Homo sapiens: one gene and its partners. The protein of the gene in region 3 interacts with the protein of the main gene of each other region in a biochemical or structural test. Each region holds a gene or a part of one and is shown on either strand. Other genes may lie near its edges. The genes, in order: EP300, STAT3, MYOD1 and CREBBP.

Region 1 (7,023 bases), on a different chromosome or scaffold from region 3:
TATTTCATTGATAACTATCATTATCTGGCAGTGTGTGGGGATTTCAAAGATGTCTGCTTCAGAGGAGCTCACATTTATACAGAAATGAGTGAAAGAAAATAAGAAAGACTGGCTTGTTTTTACCTTCTCACCAGAGAAAGTTTCAAAGGTACAGAAAAGGAGACAATAAATATAATGATGTCCCAGAGAGTGGCTGTTTTGAATCGCTAGATTCTAATGAGATAAACTGGCATTCCCTATCTTTATCCTAAGGCTTGTCATAAGAAATCTCTTAATGAGAAGTCAGTATTTTCTGGAAGTATCCTTGATTTTATAAAGAATAAAATCAAGCAGATCCACTGGTTCCTCTCTCATTCTGTCCTTCCTTGTCTATCAGAGGCCACGATGAACCAGCCATCCGTCAAGTACAGTACTTTATAAAACGGCTGTGACTCATGGAACTTCTCAGTTCATCAACATGGCTGAGAACTATTGGATACCGATATATATTAATATCGGTATCAAAGTAGAAGCTTCTAAACCCTTAAAAAAAGTTCTATTAATAAGGATTCAACTATTAGATGAGAATTTGGATTTTTATTATATACATAACCAACCTCTCACAAGGAAGCTACAGGTTGTTCTGGGTCTATAATTCTCTCATCTTATTTTTAAACTTTGGTTTGGGCCACAAGGACTCATAAATCTGCAATTTTTTTTTTTTTTTTTAGACGGAGTTTCACTCTGTCGCCTAGGCTAGAGTGCAGTGGCGCAATCTCGGATCACTGCAACCTCCACCTCCCAGGTTCAAGCCATTCTCCTGCCTCAGTCTCCCGAGTAGCTGGGATTACAGGCACCCGCTACCATGTCTGGCTAATTTTTGTTATTTTTTTGTAGAGACAGGGTTTCACCATGTTGGCCAGGCTGGTCTTGAACTCCTGACCTCAAGTGATCTGCCTGCCACAGCCTCCCAAAGTGCTAGGATGAAAAGTGTACACCACCGCGCCCGTCCAAATCTGCAATTTTTAAATTCAATCTCTAGGTTTTATGGCTCAAACTGTTTGAAAAAGATTCCTTAAATATATGTAAAATTTATGTGCTGCACTAAATAATATACTAAATAAGGAGAAGGATTGTGTCCCCTTGTCGTACCCCTTTACGTACCTTCAGACCTCAGGGTACAACATGAAACATAATGGTCAAAGTCAGAGCTAAATAAAATCTTTATGCTCCTGCTACGATAGGTACTATCACAGGAAGGCAAAACAGGATACAAAAGTCCCTAATGAAAAATAGATTACATTCTACTTGTGGAGAAAACAGTAAGAGATAAAGCAAAAGAGAATGGAAATGGCCCAGAAGTAATATAATACTACAGTATAGCTCTAATGATTCTGCCTAAATCCAAATCTCTACTTACTGGAGTTGCAGGCTGCGGAGGAAGCAGCGGTGCTGTTGGGGTAGGAACAGACGCTGCTGTGCTCTGCTGTGAGCGAGGCTGCTGCTGGGGCTGGTCAGCAGAAGGTGCAGCAGGAAGTGAAGGCTGCACTTGTTGGGGAAGTTGTGTTGTTGGTGGTGTAGGTGTCTGCCTTGGAGGGGGATGTAGAGCCTGGGACTGTGGCCCAGGTGGCATGGCAGGAGGTGTAGGAACAGGGGCTGGAATTGTTGTTGCTGGTGGCTGCTGAGCCCCTATGCTTGGGGGAGTATGGTGAGGGGTGGGGGTACGACTAGGTACAGGCGAGGGTGAATTCTGATGAAGAGCTGGTTGAGGAAGCTGGGGACAGTGAATGTGGCTCCCCTGAGACCCTGGAGGCATTATAGGAGAGTTCACCGGGCAGGAAGAACTAGACATTTGTGCCTGTTAAAATAAAAAACATAACAAGACAGCAATTCAGAACAGAATTAAGGAAATACTTACATAGGCATGATATATAAATTTAGGACACAAACTGATTAAACAAAGAGTAGCAATGTGTCTATTTCAAAATGTGTAAAATACCCTATTACTGGGCATGTATCTTTGGACAGCACCATCAAGATAGTACTTAACTAAAGAGACTTCAAACCATTCAGCAGAATGGCCTCAGCCACCGCAGAAAAATGGCAGAATTGAGTGCAGAGTGCTCTAGGGCCTGCCTATGCTCTTTTCAGCCAGATTTCCTTCTACATTGTGTTTAATTCTAAGATTTATTTTAAAGTGTTCACTAGTAAAAACAATTAAAACTATCCATTTAAATTATTTCCTACTTTGTAACAATTAACACCATTGCTATGTCACAGAATAATCTCTTCATGTTCAGAATACCCTAAGTCCAAAATTGTTATTTTTTAAAAAATCATCTGTTTTCACCCACTATTTGCTGCCACTCTCTCCTATAAAAACCTACATCAAGAGAAGTTTCAAGAATCAAAAATAAGTGAAAAATCCACTTATGAGACATACTTGAGACACTGGAGCTTGACCGCTGGACGGAGCCAAAGGGATATTTGTTACATTCATTCCCTGTGATGGGAACTGAGTCTGAGGAAGGAACTGGCCCTGGTTGGAAGGCTGTTGCATACGAGGCCCATAGCCCATAGGCTGAAAAAAAAAAAAAACACAAATCACCAAACTGCTTCATTATAGTTATTCTACTATAACTAAAATCATCAAATGCTCCTAACGTCAGGCTTATTAAGTAGAGAAAAGCCAAAGACAGGAGTATAGGTGAAGAGGGCTGAAGAGGAGAAGGAAGAAAGTTGTAGAACAACTGACTCTTGTGCCAAGATAAAGAGAAATAGCCTCACAGTTTACCTAGGCCTACTCCAAGAAATAGTAAGAGGATGGAACACACATTCTCTTGGTACACAAATATGCCTAGCACAAGGATAGCAGGTAATTTTCTTTGCATGCTCTGTTAAGTGAGGAGAGTTAATCACAATTTCATGAGGTCATGTCAGTGATGTAATAACACAAATTCTAAGACCCATAATATGTAAAAACAAGAAAATCTTACAAGTTGTAGCAGAATCTGGTAGCATTCATGGTCCACAAATGCTCTAGCACTGTTACATGTCATTTCCAAAATTACCCTACACAAATTCAGGCCTTAAAGAAAGAAATCTCGAGTACCAAAGGCCAAAAACTTCATAAGCTAAGACCATCTGTCTTATAGGTTAAAATGAAGGACAGAACTCCCTGTTGAAAATGGCAGATTAGTGAGAAGTAGTAATGCTCAGGAACCCCCAAAAGGGTCAAGAATCAGAGGCACCAGCTAACTCTAAAGGGCAGCAGGAGGGTTAGGGTCAAGGTAGAGAGATGGACTGGTTAAGAGTTCGCATAAGGAGCAGGAGAAGCCTAGTCTCTCTTCTCCGAGTTCAAGAACCAGGCAAAAACGCACCATCAACCTTGCAAGACAGTTCTCTGCCTGGAGGAGGGAAGACAGACATCAGGGAAGAGAAGTGACCGTGAAAACGCATGCAGGCCACTAAACACTGACACTCCAGGGACAAGGGACTGGCTGTTTTCGTTTTTTGGTCAGCTTTCTAGTAGAGTTAAATACAGAAGAATTACAGAAGAACTAGGAGTTATGGTCTGTTTAAATGACTGTGAGAATTTATAAAGTAGGAACAAACAGGATTTTCAAAATACCAGGTAAAGGCCAAAGAGATTACCAAAGACGTCAAACTAACCGGGTTGAGAGCTCCAGGTTGAGCCAACTGTCCATGGTGCTGAAGAGGAGGGGTTTGCCGGGGTACAATAGGGGGCTGGGCCATGCTCATCTGGCCAAATTGATTCAAACCTGTGAATATGAGCAAAATGTTAGATCTGAATGCCTTTGTGAAATTGAATAATAAAAGATAGAATTCTTATGTCTGATTCTGTATCTTTTTTTTTTTTTGAGACGGAGTCTTGCTCTGTCGCCCAGGCTGGAGTGCAGTGGCGCAATCTCCGCTCACTGCAAGCTCTGCCACCTGGGTTCACACCATTCTCCTGCCTCAGCCTCCTGAGTAGCTGGGACTACAGGCGTCCGCCACCACACCCAGCTAATTTTTTGTATTTTTAGTAGAGACGGGGGTTTCACTGTGTTAGCCAGGATGGTCTCTATCTCCTGACCTTGTGATCTGCCCGCCTCAGCCTCCCAAAGTGCTGGGATTACAGGCGTGAGCCACCGCACCTGGCCCTGATTCTATCAGGACTAATAAACTGGCTTTCAACCTTCTAAGTATAAATAAATCTGTCTCATTCACAGTAGCAGTAAACAGACATTATCAACTAACAGGATCTCCAAACTGAATTTTACAAATTTTACAATCTGCTTTTTTTTTTTTTTTTGAGACGAAGTCTTGCTGTCACTCAGGCTGGGGTCCAGTGGCGCGATCTCGCCTCACTGCAAACTCCGCCTCCTGGGTTCAAGTGATTCTCCAGCCTCAGCCTCCAGAGTAAATGGGATTACAGGCCCGTGCCACTACAACCGGCTAATTTTTTTGTATTTTTAGTAGAGACAGGGTTTCACCACATTGGCCAGGCTGGTCTCGTACTTTGACCTCAGGTGGTACACCAGCCTCGGCCTCCCAAAGTGCTGGGATTACAAGCGTGAGCCACCATGCCCAGCCTGCAGTTGTTTTTTAATGGATACTTGATCATTTAATGTCACCTGCCCTGTGATCTGCCAGCCAACCTGCTCTTCACCCCCTCTTCCTCTATGGGCAGGTAATCATGACACTTGCTGTTGGCATAAAGCGGGTGTTCAGGTAGCAAGTATTATCTTGCAGTACACCGGGGATTCTTTTAAAATAAAAAAATTTTTTTCACTATTTACCAGATTGTGGAGTTATTCGAGGCATCATCTGGTTTGGCACACTGCCACGGATCATACTTGGGTCAGGTAGAGGGCCATCTAGAGTAAAAAAGAGAAATAAGTATCTTTGCACCATCTTCCCTTAACCAAACAAAAACTCACTGCACACACAAACCCCACAAAATATTTTTAATAATACCTTTGAAAATTGAGTATGAATCACAAAATAAAGCTCTGAACTAGACAGAAGCTTGAAGAAAATGTTATTTCTGGAATACAGAAAAATGCCTCCAAGTGGATTTGTTGGTATTCCTTTATGAGCCCGGGTGCTTTCAATGTTGATAGAAAAATAAGCTATTGAAGCCATTATAGGCCAGGCACAGTGGCTCACGCCTGTAATCCTGGCACTTTGGGAGGCTGAGGTGGGTGGATCACTTGAGGTCAGGAGTTCAAAACCAGCCTAGCCAACATGGCGAAACCCTGTCTCTACTAAAAATACAAAAAAATTAGCCAGGCGTGGTGGCAGGCACCTGTAATCCCAGCTACTCAGGAGGCTGAGGCAGGAGAATCGCATGAACCTGGAAGGCGGAGGTTGCAGTGAGCCAAGATCACACGACTGCACTCCAGCCTGGGCGATGGAGCAAGACTCTGTCTCAAAAAAAAAAAAAAAAATTGAGGCCATCATAGCATTTAATATGTTATTGTTTAACAAAGTCTGAGTCTGGTTGGCATGCAACAGAGTATCTCCATGGATAATAGCTATGAATCATGTCTAATGGTGGCCGAATTTGATCATGTAGCACAACGTTTTTATGCACATAAACTGTGAACATTGATTTTAAATAATATGCATATTATACCACACTACATATCATGTACCTCTTAAATACAAAAACAGAAATAATTCTTAAAAAAATAAAATATCCTGTAATCCCAGCACTTTGGGAGGCCGAGGCGGGCGGATCACGAGGTCAGGAGATCGAGACCATCCTAGATAGCACGGTGAAACCCGTCTCTACTAAAAATACAAAAAAATAGCCGGGCGTGGTGGCAGGCGCCTGTAGTCCCAGCTACTCGGGAGGCTGAGGCAGGAGAATGGCGTGAACCCGGGGCATGACCCCGGGAGGTGGAGCTTGCAGTAAGCTGAGATCGTGCCACTGCACTCCAGCCTGGGCGACAGAGCGAGACTCCGTCTCAAAAAAAACCTAAAATATAAATACATAAATTCTAAGGTCTTTTTCCTGGATTATCTGCACATGCTCTAGTGTAGTACTTTCAACATAGTGCACAGAGAAAATATTTTTACAGCACCCTCGGAAAGGACAGATGTCTGTAGTGACCTGGCTCCACCCTGGCCATACCCTCCATCAAGGGCTGTACATTCAAGCCTCAGGCATAGGAGAGGAAGACCTGCTGCTCTTCTAAGGAGATGTCCATCCCTTCAGACAAATTTCAACCTTTAGTAAATGAGCAAAACTGAGAGAGGAAATGCTCAACATTTATTCATATAAACTTTTATCTGTAACTCTGCAAGCTTTATAAGAAGTATATGCATAATCCATGCTCATTACATAAAAATTAAAAATCAATAGAAAAATGAATCAGGATCCAACAAATGACCTTGAGATAAACCTTTCCTCTTCCTCCCCACACATATCTGTATTCACGCACACTATCTACAAAACAATGTTTTCACCTAAGATATGAGTAACTTTTTTTTCAAGTCAACAATATGGATAGGTGTTCCAAGCTAAATGGCAAGTGCCAAGCAGCTAATACCAAGTAAAACTGTTTTAAGTACCCAAAACAATAGAGAATGGTGAGGACTGAAGTGGAGAGAAAACACAGCTCTTCTAGAGTCAGCCATGAGTGCAGCTATAGACAGGTGTCACTGTAGGAGAAAGGGGGTCAAGTCTGCCAGACATGTCCTTTTTTTTTTAAAGCAGCCAGAAATTCAGACTTTTTAAATGCAAAATCTTCTGATTTTTAAGTATTTGAGACTAATCAAATGAAAATGGTTTAAAAATAAAACCGCAATCCTACTGCCCACATTTGCCCCATATGATGCAGATACGAATGTATCTATTATTGCTCCATGAGGCAGCTCTTGTCATTTTAAGGAAACTTGATGAATTATTTAAAGGAACATCTTGATACTATTTTTTAAGATAAATATTTAAAGGCTGGGCGCAGTGGGTCACACCTGTAATTTCAGCATTTTGGGAGGCCGAGGTGGGTGGATATCTTGAGCTCAGGAGTTCGA
Region 2 (7,901 bases), on a different chromosome or scaffold from region 3:
CCGGGAGGAGGAGGTTGCAGTGAGCCACGATCATGCCACTGCACTCCAGCCTGGGTGATAGAGTGCAACTCCAACTCAAAAAAAAAAAAAAAAAAGTATATATTTGTTGATTTGCACATCACCTAAGAAAACCATAAGCTAAGAAGGTTTGGACTCAGGCGTCTGGAAAGTTGGTCACCACCTCTACCCCACCTCATATCTGAATGTCAAGAGACACGTAGAGGCAGAGAAGTTAAAGCAACTTTCTAGAGACAGAAATGACCACTGATCAAGCCACAATGCACTCTGGTTTAAATGACATTTAGGTCATGACTGTCCTTAATCTAAAACAAACCTAGATTAGTATTTCTTTTCATTAGTAAATAGCTAAATTCTGATGGTAAATTATGCTGACCAAAAACAGTTCCTCACTTCCCAAGTTAGACATAGCAATTAGAAAAATAATCTAAGCAAGCTCCATTTGTATTTCTTTTTTCACCTGTTTATTGAATATTTACCTCCCATGAAGTCTTTCAGCCTATTGGTGGTATTTTACTGTTCAGATATATGTTAGAATTTCACTGATACTTACTGGGCGCGGTGGCTCACACCTGTAATCCCAGCACTTTGGGAGATAGAGGTGGGCAAATCACAAGGTCAGGAGTTCAAGACCAGCCTGGCCAATATGGTAAAACCCCGGTCTCTACTAAAAATACAAAAATTAGCTGGGCGTGGTGGCGCACGCCTGTAGTCCCAGCTACTTGGGAGGCTGAGGCAGGAGAATCGCTTGAACCCAGGAGGCAGAGGTTGCAGTGAGCCAAGATTGCGCCACTGCACTCTAGCCTGGGCAACAGAGCAAGACTCTGACTCAAAAAAAAAAAAAAAAAGAATTTCACTGATACTTTTCACAAAATATACAGAAGGAGGCACAAATTCCACCACTATGGCACTCTGCTGCGTTGGCCAAGTGTCTTGATCCTTTGGCCTCAATTTTCTTATCTACGATATTAGGGTAATTGTTATGTGAACTACCCACCTCACAAGTCCTTTGTGGGTTAATTCATAACTGTGCTGTGGGTATTTCTTTTTCTTTCCTTTCTTCCTCCTTTCCTTTCTTTCTTTCTTAAAGATGGGTTCTCATTATGGTGCTTAGACTAGACTCTAGACCCAATTCCTGGCCTCTCACCATGTTGCCCAGACCAGACTCAACTCCTGGACTCAAGGAATCCTCCCACCTCAGCCTTCAATTAGCTGGGATCAGAGGTGTGCACCACCATGCCTGGCACTGTGGATATTTCTAAGTGATTATTCTTCTCAAATGAACTACATAAAAAACAAAAGATTCATGAATTTACTAATGGTTCTTTGTGATGGATGTGCTAATATAGAGACTAAAATCAAGGCTCCAACCTCTAAAACATTTTTTTTTAAATTCCAGACTTGTTTCCCCATCCCACTGTGCAAACTGAACAAAAACTGGGCTAGCACTCCTGTCTGGAACATGTAATAAGGAAATAAATGTGCTGACTCAGAGAACACAGACATATTTAATATAAAATAAGATAGAAAACTGGCTGAACCAAGTCATAACACAGTCTAAATCCACATATAAAAGATTGAGATGATTTTCTGCTTTGCTTTATTCAAGCCCAATGCTTTATCAGCACAGCCAGCCAAAAATTTACAACCCATACACAGACTATGTAAACCTTTAGTTGCACATACAGTAAGACCAGCAGGTACACACTATACACATTTTTAATTAAAAAAATGACTAACCACTGATTTTGTCACCACACTTAACAACGACCTGATATGGCACAGAGTGATGTGTACCAAACATGGAAATACCAACTTGGGCGACGGTTTGAATCTTGTTAACTTCAGTGCAACCACACCCCCCAAATGCATGTAAAGTTTGCACACATGGTTTTTTCAAGGCCAGCCTGTCTTTGTTTCCCTCTCCTCTGCATTTACCCAAGATCTTGGCTCTGAGACAGAAAACTCCCACTCTCAATTGGTTCATTCCGTCCTATGCAATTAAGCAACACCACAATCCAGTAAATGCAATGGCTCAATTATTTATCTTCTGGCCGACTTTACCAGGTATTTGGAAAAGGACAATGTCAAGAGGTTTATTTCTCTCTCTAGAGCTGGCTTGACGGGTTGATGGGGATTTTATTTTGTCTTTTTTTCTCTTTTTTACAAGGCGGGGACGTGGGGGGAGCATAATTTAACCTAGAAAAAGATGCGAGGGAATTTAGAAAGAGTACCGGTCTGTCAATTTCCCTACAGGAAACTTGATTCTTATGCAATAAAGCCTACCCACGACCAGCCAGCCCGTAAGGCTGCAGGCGACAGACACACCTATTCCTGCCTCCAAAAGGGCACAGCTGTCTCCTGAAGGAGCGGGAACAGGGCAAGCGGAGGAAGTGGCTCAGCGGGAGCCGCCGACCGGGCGGGGAGGAGGCGCTTTCCGACCCCCCACTCGCGCCGGTGATCCCCGTCGGCGTGACAGTCGCTCCGGTGGCCGGAACGTCCCCAGGGCCCCAGGGAGCAGGAAATCGGGGGACTGTCCCTCACTCCTGCCGCCGCAACCGAGTGCGCCCTCGCCCCACGGTGCCCCCTCGAGCGCGTTCTGTTTCTCCGAAGAACGAAACTTCCCTCCAGCGCCCCGAGTCCCTTCCGAGGCCCGCTCCTGTCATCCCGAAGAGTCTTCCCTCAGGGCGACCCTCCGCGTCTCTTCATCTCTCCCGGCCCCACTGCAGCGTCCATCACAACATCCCCAAGGTCCCAGAGGCCCCCTGCCGCTGCGGAGCCCCCGGGTCCCCAGGCCTCCCCAACGGCCCCACCCTGCACCCCCTTCACCTGTTTCTCCGGCAGAGGCCGAGAGGCCGGGGCTGCGCGTGTGCCGGGGACGGGCGGCGAGGCTCCCTCAGGCCGAAGGGCCTCTCCGAGCCGAGGGGGAGAGACAGCGCCAAGCCGGGGTGCCTGTCCAGGATCCGGTTGGGGCTTGTTCCCTCGGCTGCGACGTCGGAACCCCCGGCTCCCCCTCCCAGTCTGCGCCGCCGCAGCTCCGGAAACCGCTGAATTACAGCCCCTTCAGCCAATCCTCGCCCAGCCCCAGCCTGGCCGAGGCACGCCGTCATGCATAATTCATGAAAGGCCAGCTCGTTCGGCCACCCAGAGGTCCCAGTGCGTGTGCGGTACAGCCGAAGCCCCGCCCACTGACCAATGAGGAGAGCAGCTAGGAGAAAGGGCGGAGCCAAGAGGAGACTGATACGCCCCTGTGCTGGCTGTTCCGACAGTTCGGTGCTCCTCCCTCCGCCACAGCGAGGGAAGAGCCGAGGACTTGGGCACAGAAGCCCGGGGGGAGGGAGGGAAGATGACCGGAATGTCCTGCTGAAAACTCAGCTGAGTTCCTGGCAGTGCGTGACGTCAAGGCACTTTAAATGCCCCTGATACAGCTCCCTCCTGCCCGCTCTCCCTTTTCCCGGCCCTTGGCACCACGTGGTGGCGAGGTTGAGAGCCTCTTACCACGCGGGAATCAGCTAGTTAGATAGTCCCCAGGTATCTCCAGATCCTCTGGGGACCCAACTCCTGAATTGGGTTCTGGGGACAACAAAAAGAACATGGGTGACTCCGCCTGCTTTGAACTTCAGTTTCTGCGTGAGCAGGGACACACACACCCGGAAACATGACGTGGAAATAGAGTAATTACTAGAGTGCGTGGGGAGAGGGTAGTGGATTTAACCCCGTACTCCGTTCCATCACTTCAAGCATCAAACGCCGACCAGCTAGCCCATTGGCCCGTACAGGCGAATGCAGAAGACGGTGTATACGAAAGCTGATAACGTGTAGGGCTTGACATTTTTATGCGTCTGAATTGAAATACATGAAATGTTCTGCCTTTTTCTTTTCCACCTTGCCTACTTGGTATGCAAGTTTTACTGAATTGAAGCCAGTGGTTGATAGGAAATGTAGACATTTTGCCTTTCATAATAGAGGATGAACTTTGCATAATGGAGTGATTTCTGTGTATGTGCTGATACTATCAGGGTTTTTAATTTTTATTTTTTTGGGTCTTTAAAAATATGTTATTAATATTTGTGTTTGTTTAATACGAACAGGTATAAAGACAAAAATCTAAAAAGGACCCATTATCTCACTGCTCAGCTAACCCCTGACATATTTTTTTTCAATGAACCTAATACATGTTCCTGTTTAGAAAATGCAGACCGTTCAGAAAGGTCAAAAATATTAAATGAAAATCTTTCCCTACCCCCATCATTCCTTCTCCCCAAGGATAGCTGTTCTTATTAATTTCTAGTGAGAAAAATCAATGACTCTTAACCTTTGAAGGCAGTCACAGATCCTTCTGAGTGTTTGAAGGAGACTAGATTCTAGCCCCAGAAACAATACAAGGTTTTACTCACATGGTTCCCCAGATACCTGAAGCCTGTCTAAGTCTACAGATTCAGACCGCTCGTACCACCTCATATCCAATGAGGGACAGAGGCATCTACAGGGCAATTCATAGGGTCACTGGTGGTGAGAATTGAGAACCTCCTATTGCCCTCTGGTAGACACAGCTCAGTATGGAAATTGCTGTATTTACCTGTAGAGTGTGTGTGTATTGATTAGGCTGTTTATCTACACCACAGGACAGATATCCCCCATCTCCGCCTATAGTCTCTTGTAACTACGCTATCCCGTGCGGCCAACTGCCTCCCTGATAACATAGGGTCTAGGATTTGTTTAGTGATTTACTGCTTACAAAGGACTTACACACCTTATACACTCCCTGCCTGGTTTCTTTCTCACAATCATGAATAGCAGATAGGAGAGGCCATATTATCCGCTGATAGAAAACTAAAGACAACATAATATGACATTTTCAAGATCACAGAGAAACTCAGAAATATACCAGGTTCAGAGTCAGGTTTGGGGGCTTTACGTCCCATAGCTTTGTTCCATTCATTCAAACCCTGCCCTGCTTCTGACTTCTCAAGAGCTGGCCTCTGTTTCCCTCATTGGCCTCCCCACCAGTAACACATAAAATCTACCTCTGCGACTATGGGTTTGACCTGCAAAAATTCTCTTCAGCCCAGACACTGGCCTTTCTCCACAACCCCGCCAAATTCCTCTTGGCTAAATGCTGCAATTTCTGTCCCTTGGGCCACTGCCTTAACCACCTGATTATTCTCTCCTTATTCTATCCTATTCTTCCACTGGCTGCCAGGGACATCATCCTAAAAATTAAATAAATAAACATTCAGGCCAAGGCGGGTGGATCACAAGGTCAGTTCAAGACCAGCCTGGCCAACACAGTGAAACCCCGTCTCTACTAAAAATACAAAAATTAGGCTGGGCACTGTGGCTCACGCCTGTAATCCCAGCACTTTAGGAGGCTGAGGCGGGCAGATCACCTGAGGTCAGGAGTTCGAGACCAGCCTGACTAATATGATGAAACCCTGTCTCTACTAAAAATACAAAAATCAGCCAGTCATGGTGGCTTGCACCTGTAATCCCTGCTACTCGGGAGGCTGAGGGAAGAGAATCTCTTGAACCCGGGAGGTGAAGGTTGCAGTGAGCCGAGATCGCGCCATTGCATTCTAGCCTGGACAACAAGAGCGAAACTCCATCTCAAAACAAAAGTAAAAATTAGCTAGCCATGGTGGCACGTGCCTGTAGTCCCAACTACTCAGGAGGCTAAGGCAGGAGAATTGCTTGAACCCAGGAGGTGGAGGTTGCAGTGAGCCCAGATCCCTCCACTGCACTCCAGCCTAGGCGATAGAGCAAGACCCTGGCTCAAAAAAAAAAAAAAAAAAAAATTCAATCATGTCACAGTCGGCTTAAAAATCTCTATGGTTCCCTACTACCGGCAAGATAAAATCCAAGTTAATTTTTTTTTTTTTTTTTTTTTTTGAGACAGAGTTTCCTCTTGTCGCCTAGGCTGGAATGCGATGGTATGATCCTGGGTCACTGCAACCTCCGCCTCCCAGGTTCAAGCAATTCTCCTGCCTCAGCTTCCCAAGTAGCTGGGACTACAGGTGCCCACCACCATGCCCAGCTAATTTTTGCATTTTTAGTAGAGACGGGGTTTTACTGTGTTGGCTAGGCTGGTCTTGAACTCCTGACCTCAAGTGATCCGCCCACCTCAGCCTCCCAAAGTGCTGGGAGCCACCGTGTCCGGCCAATCCAAGTTAAATTTTAAAAATGCTGACCAGGCACAGTGGCTCATGCCTGTAATCCTAAAGCTTTGGGAGACCGAGGCAGGAAGATCATTTGAGGCCAGGAGTTCGAGATCAGCCTGGGCAACATGGCAAAACACCAACTTTACAAAAAATTAGCCGGGCGTGGTGGTGGCATGCCTGTAGTCCCAGCTATTCTGAGGACTGAGGCAGGAGGATCACTTGAACTTAGAAAGAAGTTCGAAGTTACAGTGAGCTATGACTGTTCTACTGTACTGTAGTCTGAGCAACAGAACAAGACCAACCTTGTCTCAAAAACAAACAATAAACAAAAAGCTGACCATTTAATTCAGTGCCATGGCTGGGCGCGGTGGCTCATGCCTGTAATCCCAGCATTTTGGGAGGCCGAGGCGGGCGAATCCTGAGGTCAGGAGTTCGAGACCAGCCTGGCCAACATGATGAAACCCCGTCTCTACTAAAAATACAAAAAAATTAGCTGGGCATAGTGGCGGGTGCCTGTAATCCCAGCTACTTGGGAGGCTGAGGCAGGAGAATCGTTTGAACCCGGGAGGCAGAGGTTGCAGTGAGCCGAGATCATGCCACTGCACTCCAGCCCAGGCAACAAAGTGAGACTCTGTCTCAAAAAAAAAAAGAAAAAAGAAAAAAACACCATAATTCAGTGCCATGCATGTGGTAGGAGCTCAATTGATGTTCCTTCTTTCTCCCTCTTTATTTGAATCATAAAATCCTACAGGCCCAGCACAGTGGCTCACGCCTGTAATCTCAGCACTTTGAGAGGCCGAAGCGGGTGGATCACCTGAGGTCAGGAGTTCAAGACCAGCCTGACCAACATGGTGAAAGTCTGTCTCTACTAAAAATACAAAAATTAGCCAAGCGTGTTGGCGGGCACCTGTAATCCCAGGTACTCGGTAGGGTGAGGCAGAAGAATCGCTTGAACCCAGGAGACAAAGGTTGCAGTGAGCTAAGATTGCACCATTGCAATCCAGCCTGGGTAATACAGTGAGACTCTGTCTCAAAAAAAAGATAAATTCCACAAAGGCTGACCTGAATCCCCCCTTTTCTAACCTAGTCCCACAAACCCTACTAAATGTGTTACCTTCCTCCAAACATGTCTACACCTTCTGCAACTTCATGCCTCTGTGGATAGTCTTCCTTCTACCTGGAATCTCTTTCCTCAGTCCCTACCTGAGAACTCTTACTCATTCTTCAAAGCCCTGTTGCAACATCACCTCCTCTAGGCTTCCTTCTATTCTTACTGGCAAAGTTAATCTCCTACCAGACTCCTTCGGCAGGTTGTTTCCCCATCTAGAATACATTCTCTACCTTGAATTCTAATAAATCCACATATTGGCCTACTTCCTGAAAAAAAACAATAATTAACATTGATTAAGTAATTACTACTATATTCCAGGAACTGTGCTAAGCATTTTACATAGATTATCTCATTTGATCCTCACCAGAACCCAGTGAGGGTAATATTATAATTCTTATTTTACAATTGAGGAAACGAAGACTGAGAAAGTGAAAGACTGGCTCAAGACTGGTCTCACAGCTAGAAACTAGGTGGAAACTCAGAATGAAAATCAGGTCTGGCTGACTCTCTGGCCACGTGCTAACAAACATCTTCCCCTAAACTGTGGGTTCCTGGAAACTTGAACCCCTTAAGCCCTGTCTTCATAATCTCAGCATCTATCATCTAGCCTAGAG
Region 3 (7,017 bases):
TTTTGTAGTTTCTTGCTTATTCAGATTTGGGGAAAATCTAGATTTGCATAGATAAGTGGTTTGAATAGCTCACCTGGGAATCTCAGAGTACTCTTTAATTAAGTAGACTCATTCATTCATTTGCCCAAGAAATATTTATTGAGTGCCTACTATGCACCTGGCTTTCTGCTGAGCCTTGAGCAAGTAGGAAGAAGTATTTGTTTCTAAATCATCAATACAACAATTACTTACATTCCTCATTGTGAGTATAGTGAAAAAACAATAAGAAGACACATCGAGATGCCAAATCTCTCTATAGTATACCACTACAATATTGCAGCATGCCATGTATAATGCCCAGTTCAAGAGAACATGCCCCAGGCAGATGGGGTCTGAGCCTTTCCTGGGAAGAGCAAGTGTAATAGAACATGGATGTCTAATCATGTATGTGACTTCCCAGTTTTGAAGAAATTCAACCATCTTCATTAATGTCACAGTTCAAGACATTCAAATATATGCATAGAGATGCAAAGGGCGTGAGGCCACTCATTCATTCACTGGACATTTATCAGGTGCCTACTGTGTGACTGCCACTGTGATGGTTTTTGGAAATGTCATTGTGAACAAAACATCTTTGCCTTCATGGGGCTAAGTCAGTCATGAACAAACTAATGAAGAAGATTATAAAGAGTGGCAGTGCCTGGAAGGAAATTAACAGGGTGGTGTGAACCAGAGTATGGGGGGCAGTTATCTTAGAGGGAATGGTCAGTGATGTCCCAAGGAGGCAAGAAGATCTATTATATAAAATGCAGTCAATCTTGGGAAAAGCCCAGGGGATAATGCTATGAGTTTAGAGCAGCAAGGACAAGGCTCCAAGGCAGGATCCTGTTCAGAGTGTTAGAAGACAAGAAAGGAGGTCAGGCTAACTGGAGTAGAGCAATCAAAACGGATGGTGCCTCCAGGTGTAGTAAGAGACACAGGCTGAGGCTAGCTCATGCAGGGCCTGATAGGCCAGGGGATGGAGATGAGATTTTACTCTAAATGCAAGAAGCTGCTGGGGAGTTTGAAGCAGGAGGATGGCATAATCCCATTTACATTGTAAAGGTCTACTCAGGCTGCTATGTAACGAATGGATTATACTGAGGCTACAGAGGAAGTGAGGAGGGCAGCCAGGTTATTGTGGTCATCCAGAGCAGCAGTGTGACAGCTTAGTCCAGGATGGTGACACTAGGGATGGACTGACTTGAGACAGGTCTTAGAGGTAGAATGGACAGCTCTTCCTCATACTCAGACCTCTCCTTGGGAACTCCAGCCTTAAAAATCCCCCTGCCTAATCCACACTTCCATCTGGATATCCGATATGCATTTCAAATTTTGCCCAAACCTGGACACTTAATCTACCACCCACAAACCTAGTCTTCTCAACTCCATTCTTGCAGGAGTCATCCTTAGCTCCTTGCTTATCTCACTTCCCACATGCAATCGTGAGTAAATACTGCTAGCTCCATCTTGAAAACATATATCTAGAATTCAACCACCACTTTTCACCAGCTCCACTCACTGGGATTATTGCAATAGCCTCCTAATTGGTCTCCCTCCTTCTGCCCTTTCCCTCCAGTAACCAGCATGCTCCTGTTAAAATGTAAATCAGATAGTGATATTCTTCTCTTCCGCTCAAGCCCTCCAGTGAGATGGCTCAAGCCATCTCAGAATATAATCCTGTTTCTCTCTCTCTCACCCCATTTCCCACTATCTCTTTTACTCACCCTGCTGCAGACATATGAGCCTCCTTGCCATACTTTGAATCTGCCAAACATGGTCCTGCCTCAGGACTTTTGCACATGCTTATCCCTCTATCTGGCCCTACATATCTCCAGGTATCTGCTTCCAATTCTCTTCATTCAGGTCTCTGCTTAAATGTAGCAGAGAGGCCTTCTCTAATCACTCCATAATCTTCATCACTGTGTCTCCCTGCCTTGCTTTTTCTTCATAAGGCTTCTAACCTCCTGGCATCACATACTTCCTTGCTTATTTGTTCATTGTCTATCACCCTGCTTACATTGACAATGTAAGTGCCATGTAAGCAGAGTCTTGGTTTTGTTCATTGCTCTAGCCCCACACTTGGACTGGTACCTGCCACATAATGGATACCTAACAATATGTGGATTTCCGGGTGACCCCCTGCAGCTTGGGTGGGGTGAGGCCAGGACTTTGCTGCCTCTGCCAGGATTTAGAGTTACTGTCACTGCTGCTCCATGATGTAGACTTTACTGAATGAACAAATACAGGTGGGCCCTATGGAGTAAAGCGAGGTGAGTACTTCATGAAGGGAGACCTTCAGCACCACTACCAGCAGCAGAGAAGTGAAGAAGTTAGGACCCCAACAGAGCCCTCTGAGTTTTGTGGGAAGGGAGGACTTCTTAGGGCCCAGAACGGCCAGCTAGAATGCCTTCCAGAAGTTAGTGGGAAAGGCACAAAGATCACTCCTGCTTAAATTTCTGGTTTCCAGGAGGGGAGATCCAGGCAGGGATGTATGGCCAACGGAGATTCCTAGCCAGAGTGCTGAGAGGACTGTGTGAACTGCAGATTCAGGAAGAGGCTGAGAGACCCCCATGGGGGTGGCCGGTATGCTGAGGCTTGTATGGGAGCCAGATATCCCACATCCCATGGGGTGGTTGCCTCCTCCTGTTTCCAGCCTTTCCAGTGAGGCTGCAGGAAAGAGACACAGCTAAGGCCTGGAGACTCGTGGCACTCCGTCAGGGCATGGTACCACAGATGAGTTGTAAGCCTGCGGGACACAGCATCCAACTCTGAAAGCCCCTTGCTCGAATAACCCTACATCACCGCCTGAGGGCTTCCATATCCTTGGTCTCTTCAGACTGTCATCCCCACCACAATTACTCCAAGAAATTACTGTCATCCCCAAATCTATAACTGGAAACTGAGGCTCAGGAAGGAGACATGACTTCCACAAAATCACACAGTTGGGAAACTCTGGAGTCTGCACTCAACTGGTCTGCAAACCGCACTCTCGGAGACTTCAGGTGAGATGAGGTCAGGTTCTCAGGCCAGGTCCTGAAGTTTGACACCTTGGCGAAATGCACTTTCCTTGACTCAGCACCGCGAGTGAGGCGGAGCCAAGCCCCGAGCAGAAGGGTTTTCTTCCCAGCTGAAGAGGCAGCTCAGCCTAGACCCCAGGCATGGCACTGGACACCCCTGCTGTGGAAACGTGCAGATTTAGATGGAGGGGATTCCTAACCTGGGCAGGATCCGAGTTTGGAGAGATTGGCGCGAAGCTTTAGCAGCAATCTCCGATTCCTGTACAACCATAGCTGGGTTTCTAAGCGTCTAGGGAAGAAGGACTGGGCCCACGACCTGCTGAGCAACTCCCAGGTCGGGGACTGGCGGAATATCAGAGCCTCTACGACCCGTTTGTCTCGGGCTCGCCCACTTCAACTCTCGGGGTCTCTCCGCCTGTTGTTGCACTCGTGCGTTTCTCTGCCCCTGACGCTCTAAGCTTTCTGCTTTCTGCGTGTCTCTCAGCCTCTTTCGGTCCCTCTTTCACGGTCTCACTCCTCAGCTCTGTGCCCCCAATGCCTTGCCTCTCTCCAAATCTCTCACGACCTGATTTCTACAGCCGCTCTACCCATGGGTCCCCCACAAATCAGGGGACAGAGGAGTATTGAAAGTCAGCTCAGAGGTGAGCGCGCGCAGCCAGCGTTTCCCGCGGATACAGCAGTCGGGTGTTGGAGAGGTTTGGAAAGGGCGTGCCGGAGAGCCAAGTGCAGCCGCCTAGGGCTGCCGGTCGCTCCCTCCCTCCCTGCCCGGTAGGGGACCTAGCGCGCACGCCAGTGTGGAGGGGCGGGCTGGCTGGCCAGTCTGCGGGCCCCTGCGGCCACCCCGGGGACCCCCCCAAGCCCCGCCCCGCAGTGTTCCTATTGGCCTCGGACTCCCCCTCCCCCAGCTGCCCGCCTGGGCTCCGGGGCGTTTAGGCTACTACGGATAAATAGCCCAGGGCGCCTGGCGAGAAGCTAGGGGTGAGGAAGCCCTGGGGCGCTGCCGCCGCTTTCCTTAACCACAAATCAGGCCGGACAGGAGAGGGAGGGGTGGGGGACAGTGGGTGGGCATTCAGACTGCCAGCACTTTGCTATCTACAGCCGGGGCTCCCGAGCGGCAGAAAGTTCCGGCCACTCTCTGCCGCTTGGGTTGGGCGAAGCCAGGACCGTGCCGCGCCACCGCCAGGATATGGAGCTACTGTCGCCACCGCTCCGCGACGTAGACCTGACGGCCCCCGACGGCTCTCTCTGCTCCTTTGCCACAACGGACGACTTCTATGACGACCCGTGTTTCGACTCCCCGGACCTGCGCTTCTTCGAAGACCTGGACCCGCGCCTGATGCACGTGGGCGCGCTCCTGAAACCCGAAGAGCACTCGCACTTCCCCGCGGCGGTGCACCCGGCCCCGGGCGCACGTGAGGACGAGCATGTGCGCGCGCCCAGCGGGCACCACCAGGCGGGCCGCTGCCTACTGTGGGCCTGCAAGGCGTGCAAGCGCAAGACCACCAACGCCGACCGCCGCAAGGCCGCCACCATGCGCGAGCGGCGCCGCCTGAGCAAAGTAAATGAGGCCTTTGAGACACTCAAGCGCTGCACGTCGAGCAATCCAAACCAGCGGTTGCCCAAGGTGGAGATCCTGCGCAACGCCATCCGCTATATCGAGGGCCTGCAGGCTCTGCTGCGCGACCAGGACGCCGCGCCCCCTGGCGCCGCAGCCGCCTTCTATGCGCCGGGCCCGCTGCCCCCGGGCCGCGGCGGCGAGCACTACAGCGGCGACTCCGACGCGTCCAGCCCGCGCTCCAACTGCTCCGACGGCATGGTAAGGCCGGGACCCCAGGAAGTGAGGAAGTTAGGGCGGCGCTCGGGATATCAGGGACGCGTTTCCGAGGGCGGGGAGCTGGCCTTGCGGGAGGTTTGGGCCAGGATCCTTCCCGAGAGAGAGGACCCCCTTGTCCTGGGCAGCTGTCACTGGGGTAGCCTGTTTTGGAAGTGTGCGGGCAAGCGTTCGAGCTGCCCCATTGGGGGCGCTATTAGAACACTGCAGCGCGAACGTGAAGATCTTTTTCTCTACTTATCCCTACTTCCAAAATGTAAATTTGCGCCCCTTGGTGACTGTCCGCCCTTGGTTTGGCCCTGCATGTTGCAGACCTCATCTCCTACCCACCCGTAATTACCCCCCCAACCAGGACAGGTCTGGGCCCGGAACTAGAGCCTTAGGCTAGAGTTAGGGAGGGGGCGGCTACAGGAATTGGTGTTCGGGCCTCGAGCCGTCCCGCGGGCCTGACTCAGTCGCCCTTGCTGTTTGCAGATGGACTACAGCGGCCCCCCGAGCGGCGCCCGGCGGCGGAACTGCTACGAAGGCGCCTACTACAACGAGGCGCCCAGCGGTGGGTATTCCGGGCCTCTCCCTGCTCGCTCCTCCTCCTTCATGGAGCTGTCCTGGCCTCTATCTAGGACGCTCCCACCCCCACTCACACACGCCTATGTCCTGGGAAGTGGTGCAGGAGATGAAATACTAAGCAAGTAGCTCCCTGTCTTTTGGATTGTCCCGGACTCTAACTAAAGTCCTCAGTTTCCAATCTGTCTCAAAGTACTGGGCCCGGGGGTGGGAGGCTTGTCGCGGCCCCACCCCTGCTTACTAACCGAGCCCTCCCCGCGCAGAACCCAGGCCCGGGAAGAGTGCGGCGGTGTCGAGCCTAGACTGCCTGTCCAGCATCGTGGAGCGCATCTCCACCGAGAGCCCTGCGGCGCCCGCCCTCCTGCTGGCGGACGTGCCTTCTGAGTCGCCTCCGCGCAGGCAAGAGGCTGCCGCCCCCAGCGAGGGAGAGAGCAGCGGCGACCCCACCCAGTCACCGGACGCCGCCCCGCAGTGCCCTGCGGGTGCGAACCCCAACCCGATATACCAGGTGCTCTGAGGGGATGGTGGCCGCCCACCCGCCCGAGGGATGGTGCCCCTAGGGTCCCTCGCGCCCAAAAGATTGAACTTAAATGCCCCCCTCCCAACAGCGCTTTAAAAGCGACCTCTCTTGAGGTAGGAGAGGCGGGAGAACTGAAGTTTCCGCCCCCGCCCCACAGGGCAAGGACACAGCGCGGTTTTTTCCACGCAGCACCCTTCTCGGAGACCCATTGCGATGGCCGCTCCGTGTTCCTCGGTGGGCCAGAGCTGAACCTTGAGGGGCTAGGTTCAGCTTTCTCGCGCCCTCCCCCATGGGGGTGAGACCCTCGCAGACCTAAGCCCTGCCCCGGGATGCACCGGTTATTTGGGGGGGCGTGAGACCCAGTGCACTCCGGTCCCAAATGTAGCAGGTGTAACCGTAACCCACCCCCAACCCGTTTCCCGGTTCAGGACCACTTTTTGTAATACTTTTGTAATCTATTCCTGTAAATAAGAGTTGCTTTGCCAGAGCAGGAGCCCCTGGGGCTGTATTTATCTCTGAGGCATGGTGTGTGGTGCTACAGGGAATTTGTACGTTTATACCGCAGGCGGGCGAGCCGCGGGCGCTCGCTCAGGTGATCAAAATAAAGGCGCTAATTTATACCGCCGTGGCTCCGGCTTTCCCTGGACATGGGTGTGGGATCCGGAGGAAAATCCGCAAACTGGGCCAGCTGTCCCTCAGCGACGCCTGTAGGCGGCAGGCGGATTGCAAGGAGGAAGCCTGCTGCCTGGGGAAGGAAGGAGGGGTGCAAATTTCTCCAGTACGTGAGGAAGTTCCTCTGACCTTGACTACATTACTACACACGTCCGTGGCTCTTATGGAAGGGTACACAGGTTGATATGAGTATTTTTTAAACCCATGTCTGAGCTCGCCCCCTAGATATTCTGATTTAATGTTTCTGCCCCATATACCCAGGGCCAGGTATTGGTATTTTTTTTCAAAAGCTCCCCAAGTGATTCTGAAGTTCATTCAAGGCTGAGAATCATCCCCTCCATATAAAGTGAGTGAACCCAGGTGTGATAACCAGAAGAACCACGGGAAGGTTG
Region 4 (7,023 bases), on a different chromosome or scaffold from region 3:
AAGCCTCCTGATTCCGGGTCAGGCTACATCATCTTAGTCCTCACTGGCCCAAGAAGTAGGTGATGGCTAATATTTTCCCATACAATTAAACAATAAAAACAGCTGCCTCAACCTGCTATATGCCAGGCACCCTAGTAGCCCCATGTACCAAGATAATCAAAGTAAGCAGAAGTAGAGCCAGGCACAGTGGCTCCATCTCACACCTGTAATTCCAGCTACTCAGGAGGCCGAGGCAGGATTGCTGAAGGATGGGAGTTCAAGACCAGCTTGGGCAAGCAAGACCCCATTGGAAAGAAGAAAAGTAATGTAAAGAAGGGGAGGGGAAGGGGAAGGGGAAGGAAGGAAAAGAAAGAAAGAGAAAAAAAGAAGGAAGGAAGGAAGGAAAAGAGAAAGAAAGAAAGAAAAAAGAAAGAAAGAAGAGAGAAGAGAAAGAAAAGAAACAAATGGAATACTGCAGGGTAAAAAGCCCCTTTTAGAGATCTCTCTCTCTCTCTCTCTCTCACTCACACACACACACACACACACACACACACACACACCCCACCCTGCAAAACTCAAATGTGATGTCACCAGCCCAAGTCACAGCGCTGCCGAGCTGGGAGCTGGGACTCACAGTCTACTCTGAGCAGGAGCCAGGGCTCCCTCCTCAGCACCACACTGACCGCCTCCCCGTATAAAAAGCTGACATTTCCTTCAACTGTGACTCACAGTTAGAAGGTTCTACTTTTAATCAGGTGACAAATACTCAAAATATTTTAATCCAAAGCAACTGGGTCAAACTCGTAGAGTCTATAATTGTCTAAGCAAACCCTAATTACCTGATAAATTTCTATAGCTCCTGAATGTCCTCATTCAGTTTGTAATCAAATACCCAAATCTCCTTATTTAAATGTTGTACAAGCCTTCTCTACATGTTATCATACAGAACAGTGACTTATTTTTCTATTTCACTGGTTATTTTAACCATAAAGTTAAAACATGTTTAGGTGGTGCAGTTTTAATAAGAAAAATCCAAACTAGGGGGAGGAGAAGCAGCTTGTGAATTATAAAAAGATTTGCTTTACAACAGAATTGTACAACTCCACTACACAACTACTTTTTCTCCTTACCACAGATTATGCAAATTCGAAAGGTTGAATTAGGTGCAACTGGAAAATATACCTACTGTATACAATATAGTACAGGCATATTAGAAAGGCAAATTAAGACATTTTCAAACAATAGCAGACAGTACAACTAGAAATGGGAAAGTAAAGTCAGATTTAATCATGTAGAATTATTTTCCCCATTAGATTTTACTATTCTTAGCAATGGTTCAACTAAACAGTCTTTTGATTAATGGAAATGAAACACCGGGGAAAATGTCACACGGGATAATATCCAAATCTTTCTTAAGGGTAAGTTTTAAAAGGAATTCAACTTTTAGAGACAGAGCTCAAAAATAGCCTTGCTTCCTAAATTTAGAACCAGAAAACACCCTAAAGGCAGTATTTTAAATACAGCCACAGTCACCGCCTATATTGTCTAGGAACTTAATAAAAAAAACTTTAAAAAGAGAGGGGCCACTTTTGTTTACTTCCATGCCTTTCACACAGCCTTGCCCAATTTGATTTGTGTGCCCTTGCTCAAATCTCTTCAAGTCACAGCTCAAATGGCAAAGACCTGACCACTCCAGGACGCCCCGGGGACTCTGCTCGTGGCCTATTGTAGCACCCCTGTCAGCAGAGCACGGCCCCAGGGAAAGGAGAACAGGCAAAAGCCCCCACAGGCACTGCTCCCAAGGCTTACACTTCTGCATCAAAGACTCATGCAATAGGAGAATTTTGCCGAAAGCCAAGTTTGAGCCTGACTGAGAAGAGCAGCATCCTTTTCCAGTTAAAGCAAGGAGTGTATCCGGAGGGATGCACTGCAAGGAAAAGACCTCAGAGAGGACTAAAGGGAACGCTGAGCGCATGTGCTAAAAAGCAGACGGCACGGCCAGGAGCTTCAGAGCCTAGGAGAGACGGGACAACCAGAAGAGGACTCAGATGTGAGCAAGCCATGGGCCTACAACGATACCCCAGGAAACAAACTGTCATGGTCAGGGTGCTTTTCCCAACAACCAGGAATGCATGGAAAACAGGCAGGCTTCCCCAACTCCTGGCTCTGTGCTGGCTCAGCAGAAGAGCTGTCACAGGAGCCCAAGGCTCCTCAACCATCCCAGGGCCTGCCTCCCACTGGGGCATGCGGCCCTGGACTTCTGCACACGGGGACACTCAGGAAACAGGGGAGGGAGTAAATGAAGCCTTATTCAGATCACCCTTTCTGGTTCCAGAGTTTTTGCACTTGACTGCATTTCTGTACCCTTTCCTTAAGTTTTGCCTCGAGGTTTCATCTTCTCAAGATGGTTCTAAGTACTCACAGGCATCTATCAGAATCCTGTGTACACTGCTAATGCTTAACAGGTACCTCAAGATAAATTATACACAGTAAACAAACAGAATCACATACTTGTCTGCTGCTTAAACAGTCCATGAAATATGCTTCAAAATTATCAATAATTTTCAGTGTACATCCTGATTTGATTTAAAAGAAAAAATAATTCAGAACACACACCATTTAAGTTTTCGTAATTTTAAGCTTTCATGGCCATCACGTTCCTATTTTTAAAAATACAATAAAAAATGGAGACAGAGTCAATGGTATAGATGACAGAATTCCCGGCTATGTATCTGCTGAGGTGCTACACTATCACACGCGTGCCTGCACACTGGTTTCTGTGGATACGAGCACACATGGCTTCTGTCCTTTCCAGAACTGCTGAGAAACAGGTCTTGCTCCAATCAGACTAGCACTCCCAGTAAGTCCTAGGACTTACAAGGTACGACAACGTCCCTGGTTAACGCTAGTGTCAGTTCCCATTGGGCGGATATGCCAGACACACATCATCTCAGGCTACCCTCATAACCACCCTGAGATGGGAATTGTTATTATCTCCATGTTACAGATGAGGAAACTCTGAGCTCAGAGAGCTGATGTAACTTGCCCCAAACATGCTCTGGCCTCAGCACTCCTAAGGCCAGCTGGTTTGGTGGCCGGGTGGGAGCCCATGGGTACGGAACTCGGAAGCAAATAACAGACCCAATTAGAAGATAGGTGGCAATCTGCTTGAAAGTAAAACCTTAACAAGAAAATGATAAGAACTTTAAGGGACAAATACTATATAATTCTTTCACTAATTCCCTCAAATATTTCCTGAGGGCCTACTATGTGTCAGGCACTGCCCCTGGGGAGGGAAGTGCTGGGAAGAGGGCCGTGGAAAGGCTCTGGAGTTCTTACTGACGCTCACCTTCTGGTGTCACAGGAAGGGGAGCAAGCCTAGAGCCTGAGATGACAAAGACGGACGAGAAATGCCATGTGGGCCACTGGGGTCAACAAAAAGCAAAAGAACAAAGAAAAATGCAACCGGTCACCAGGCTTTCTGATAAATTCGTCTGATTTTAAATCAAGTCATCCATATAACTGTTACAGAGGAACAAAAAAGACAGAGAGAGAGGGCCCTGCTAAGCTCTGAAGTGCTCCAAGACAGGAGACCCAAGCTAGCCTGCTGCTCACCTGGGCTCTCCCGGGCTCCACATCATGCAGCTCAGAAAACTTGCCCTGCTGCTGTTTTCCTTAAAGCTGTCTGTGCAGCCGTGGTAGGCCAGTGCTCCCCAACGGGTGCTCAGAGAATGAAGTCCCACGTTATATCAGTCACCAAATTGCAGCCCATGGGCGAAGTCCTCAGATGCCAGTCTTTACAACTAGAGTTTTACTGGAACACAGCCAGGCCCACTCGCCTATGGCTACTTTCTTGCTGAAATGGCAGCCTTGAGTAGTTGCAACAAGAGACCATATGGCTCAGAAAGCCAAATGCGTGCTCTCTGGCCCTTTGCAGAGGAAGTCTGCGGACCCATAATAGGCTAAAAAGAGTTCTAGCGTCAAACAGGATTGAGAGTGGTCCAACTGTAGCCCCTCTCTCACAGTGCCCAATCAGGACACCAAGGCTCTGGGAAAGTCTGCAGTCAAATTCCTCAGCTACAAGCAACAGCATCTGAGCACAAACCATTTGTTGAGAAATACCTCTTAGCATGCCCTCTAGTTTCTTGGAATACATGTGAAGAGCTGGTTTGAGTAAGGTAAAGAGGGGTGCCCTCACTAATGGGACCCCAAAAACTAAACTGACAAGCTTTTGCAATCTTCAGAAACTCACAATAAGGTACATTTCATCTTAACTAAGGTAAGACACACTTTGGCAAAATCATTTTCCTAACTGTTTTCAAATACATCAAGTAAAAACACAAGTCAGCAATTATGGACCCCCCAGGTAATCACATACTTTGCCACACAATTACAACACACTACTTAGAAGCTGTGAAAACACAGGCGACTAATCTAAGCATCAACTTCCAACTGCAGGACTCAGTCTCTTTGTAAGTTATGTTCAATTCTGTTTACAGAATCAAATCTGAATGTTCAGCCAGGAGCGACTTTCCATCTTCTGAAGGCCCTCTAAGGCGCCCTGCACATGACTTGTCCTTGCCTACCTTCATCCCTGACGACCTTTGAATGGGGCCACCGCTCTCACCCCTCTCAGTTATTCAAAAACGAAGCACGGTCATGAAATGTCCTAGTCCTAAAAGTCTCTATGACAACTTTTATTCCTACTTAGCCAGAACTCACTGATGGGGTAACATAACCGTTTCTCATTCTCCCTGAGGTAAACAGGAACACGAGCCCACACACGTCACGCTGAGGATAACACCAGAACCAGAGGGAAAAGGGGGACGCCCTAACCCAGGAGGAAGAATACACTCCTGGCTGCCCCCACCACAGGTGGTTACAAACCTCCCCCTTAGTGATCTCATTCATGTGCGGGAAGGCCGCTACTGAAACTCACTAAGCTTGGCAGGTTCCTGGGTCGATTCAAGTAAATGCATTGTTTACAGATAGAGACTTAGAAAATAAATATATAGAGCTACGGACTTTAACAATCTAGTTTGGATCTGGTTTTGACCCTGTATCACCTCTCAAGTCCAGTTCCTCACCTAGAAAATAGCAGTAACAGCATCTTCCCTTCCTCACAGGACGCTGTAAGGATCAAACTGAGGTGACGTGGAGAAAAGCACTCTGATACATAAAGTACCAGACATACATAACAGACCATTTGGTTGACAACCATATTCGCCACCAGCTTTCTTTAAATAAGCTTCCCTATTGCATTTAAAAGGATTCACGTCATAAAATGTAATCACAACTGCTTAGAGCCACTTATACAGCACAGGATGAAACACAGCTATGTTCAATCTTCAGAATGTAGTTTTTCTTTTCCTTTTTCCCCCAGAGACAGGGTCTCACTCTGTCACCCAGGCCAGAGTGCAGTGGCATGATCACAGCTCACTGCAGCCTCGACCTCCTGGGCTCAAGCGATCCTCCTGCCACAGCCTCCTGAATAGCTGGGATTACAGGATTGTACTATTACACCCAACTAATTAAAAAAATTTTTTGTTTAGATGGGGTCTCACTATGTTGTCCAGGCTGGTCTCCAACTGCTGGCCTCAAGCAATCCTCCTGTCTCAGTCTCCCTAAGCACTGGGATTATAGGCATGAGCCACCACCCTGGCCTGCAATTTCAAAAAACTTTATAAACAGTCTGTTGTGTGCAAATTTTGCAATAAAGCTGACCAAAAAAAAAAAAAAAAAAAAAAAAAAACAACCCAGAAAACAAAAAACAAAAGTCTACTGCTTGCCTGGATATTTGTCTTATACTGTTAAATCATGAATCTCTGATGTTGAAAGACACAATATGCTATTTTAACTTGGACATATTAAATAAAGAAGTTTCCAAAACACCCAACTAACTATATACCGGTAATATAAAGTCCCCACTTATTGTAAGGGTGCCAAGTAAAGGAAGACCTCATGTATGAGAAAGTGTAAAGGCTTCTACATAATACAAGAAAATGCTACTTTAACATCTGAGGCCATCAAATTCTGTGCCTCTCCAGGGCTGCTGCTTCAGTGGGGTGAAAGGTACCGTTTCTCTCTTGCTACCCTCATTCGCAGCACATTCCGTATTTCTGCATCATCTCTGCATAAGCTTCCCAGGCTTCGGCAACTTGTTTGTCATCAGTGGCAGTGACATTCATCACTCTGAGGTGCTGCATGACCTTCGGGAGTGCTGTTTGCAACATCCATGCCCCCAGATGAGCAGCACCCTGGCTGAGCAGCTCCCCAATGTCGGGTGCATTTTTCTCTCAGCTCACTGCCACCCTTCACAGACACATCTAAGTGACACTGGTGGCCCCACAGGCCAGTCTCTACAGACATGCACTGCAGTCCAAGTAGATCCTGTTTCTCAGGCTGCCAAGGGCTCCTCCTCCTTTCAACCCCTCAGCTCCTAGACAGAGGTCCCCTCCCTCAAATTTGATCACATGCACCGGGCACACACCCTGCTCCACTAGGCCCAATTTTCCCCTGGGAGCCTCAGAGACACATCCCGTCACTAAAATAAGATTGAGTTCCTCAAGAATGTTATTCTCAGGTCTGTCCCACCTAACCAAATGCCTTCAGTTTTTGAATGTATTTAATGTAAAAACTCAAGCCATTTATTTGTTTAAAATACATCCCTAAGATCTCTGTCCATCTCATTACTCAATTTCTTAGTGGAGCAGTTACAACAGACAAAGTGTCCCTCGTTTCTTTTGGAGACAGCGTCTCACTCCATTACCCAGGCTGGAGTGCAGTGGCGCGATCTTGGCTCACTGCAACCTCTGCCTCCCGAGTTCAAGCAATTGTCATGCCTCAGCCTCTCAAGTAGCTGGAATTACAGGTGCATGTCACCATGCCTGGCTATGTTTTTGTATTTTGAGTACAGATGGGGTTTCCCCATGTTGGCCAGGCTGGTCTTGAACTCCTGACCTGAAGTTGATCCACCAGCCTCCGCCTCCCAAAGTGCTGGGATTACAGGCATGAGCCATGGCGCCCAGCAGCCCCTTGTTTAAT

The links.
Region 1: the proteins of MYOD1 (region 3) and EP300 form a complex in vitro, tested with the Homo sapiens proteins (4 studies listed by BioGRID).
Region 2: the proteins of MYOD1 (region 3) and STAT3 form a complex in vitro, tested with the Homo sapiens proteins (one study listed by BioGRID).
Region 4: the proteins of MYOD1 (region 3) and CREBBP form a complex in vitro, tested with the Homo sapiens proteins (4 studies listed by BioGRID, with this or other methods).

What each region holds. Positions count from the first base shown.
Region 1 is NC_000022.11:41,144,575-41,151,597, reverse strand, and holds part of EP300 (histone acetyltransferase p300), read right to left. Parts: intron 4,860-7,023; coding exon 4,782-4,859; intron 3,762-4,781; coding exon 3,652-3,761; intron 2,561-3,651; coding exon 2,423-2,560; intron 1,838-2,422; coding exon 1,400-1,837; intron 1-1,399. UniProt on the Homo sapiens protein: Functions as a histone acetyltransferase and regulates transcription via chromatin remodeling. Acetylates all four core histones in nucleosomes. Histone acetylation gives an epigenetic tag for transcriptional activation.
Region 2 is NC_000017.11:42,385,432-42,393,332, forward strand, and holds the start of STAT3 (signal transducer and activator of transcription 3), read right to left. Parts: upstream 3,012-7,901; 5' UTR 2,848-3,011; intron 1-2,847. UniProt on the Homo sapiens protein: Signal transducer and transcription activator that mediates cellular responses to interleukins, KITLG/SCF, LEP and other growth factors. Once activated, recruits coactivators, such as NCOA1 or MED1, to the promoter region of the target gene.
Region 3 is NC_000011.10:17,715,559-17,722,575, forward strand, and holds MYOD1 (myoblast determination protein 1), read left to right. Parts: upstream 1-4,012; 5' UTR 4,013-4,224; coding exon 4,225-4,854; intron 4,855-5,343; coding exon 5,344-5,422; intron 5,423-5,696; coding exon 5,697-5,950; 3' UTR 5,951-6,578; downstream 6,579-7,017. UniProt on the Homo sapiens protein: Acts as a transcriptional activator that promotes transcription of muscle-specific target genes and plays a role in muscle differentiation. Together with MYF5 and MYOG, co-occupies muscle-specific gene promoter core region during myogenesis.
Region 4 is NC_000016.10:3,870,696-3,877,718, forward strand, and holds part of CREBBP (CREB-binding protein), read right to left. Parts: intron 1-7,023. UniProt on the Homo sapiens protein: Acetylates histones, giving a specific tag for transcriptional activation. Mediates acetylation of histone H3 at 'Lys-18' and 'Lys-27' (H3K18ac and H3K27ac, respectively).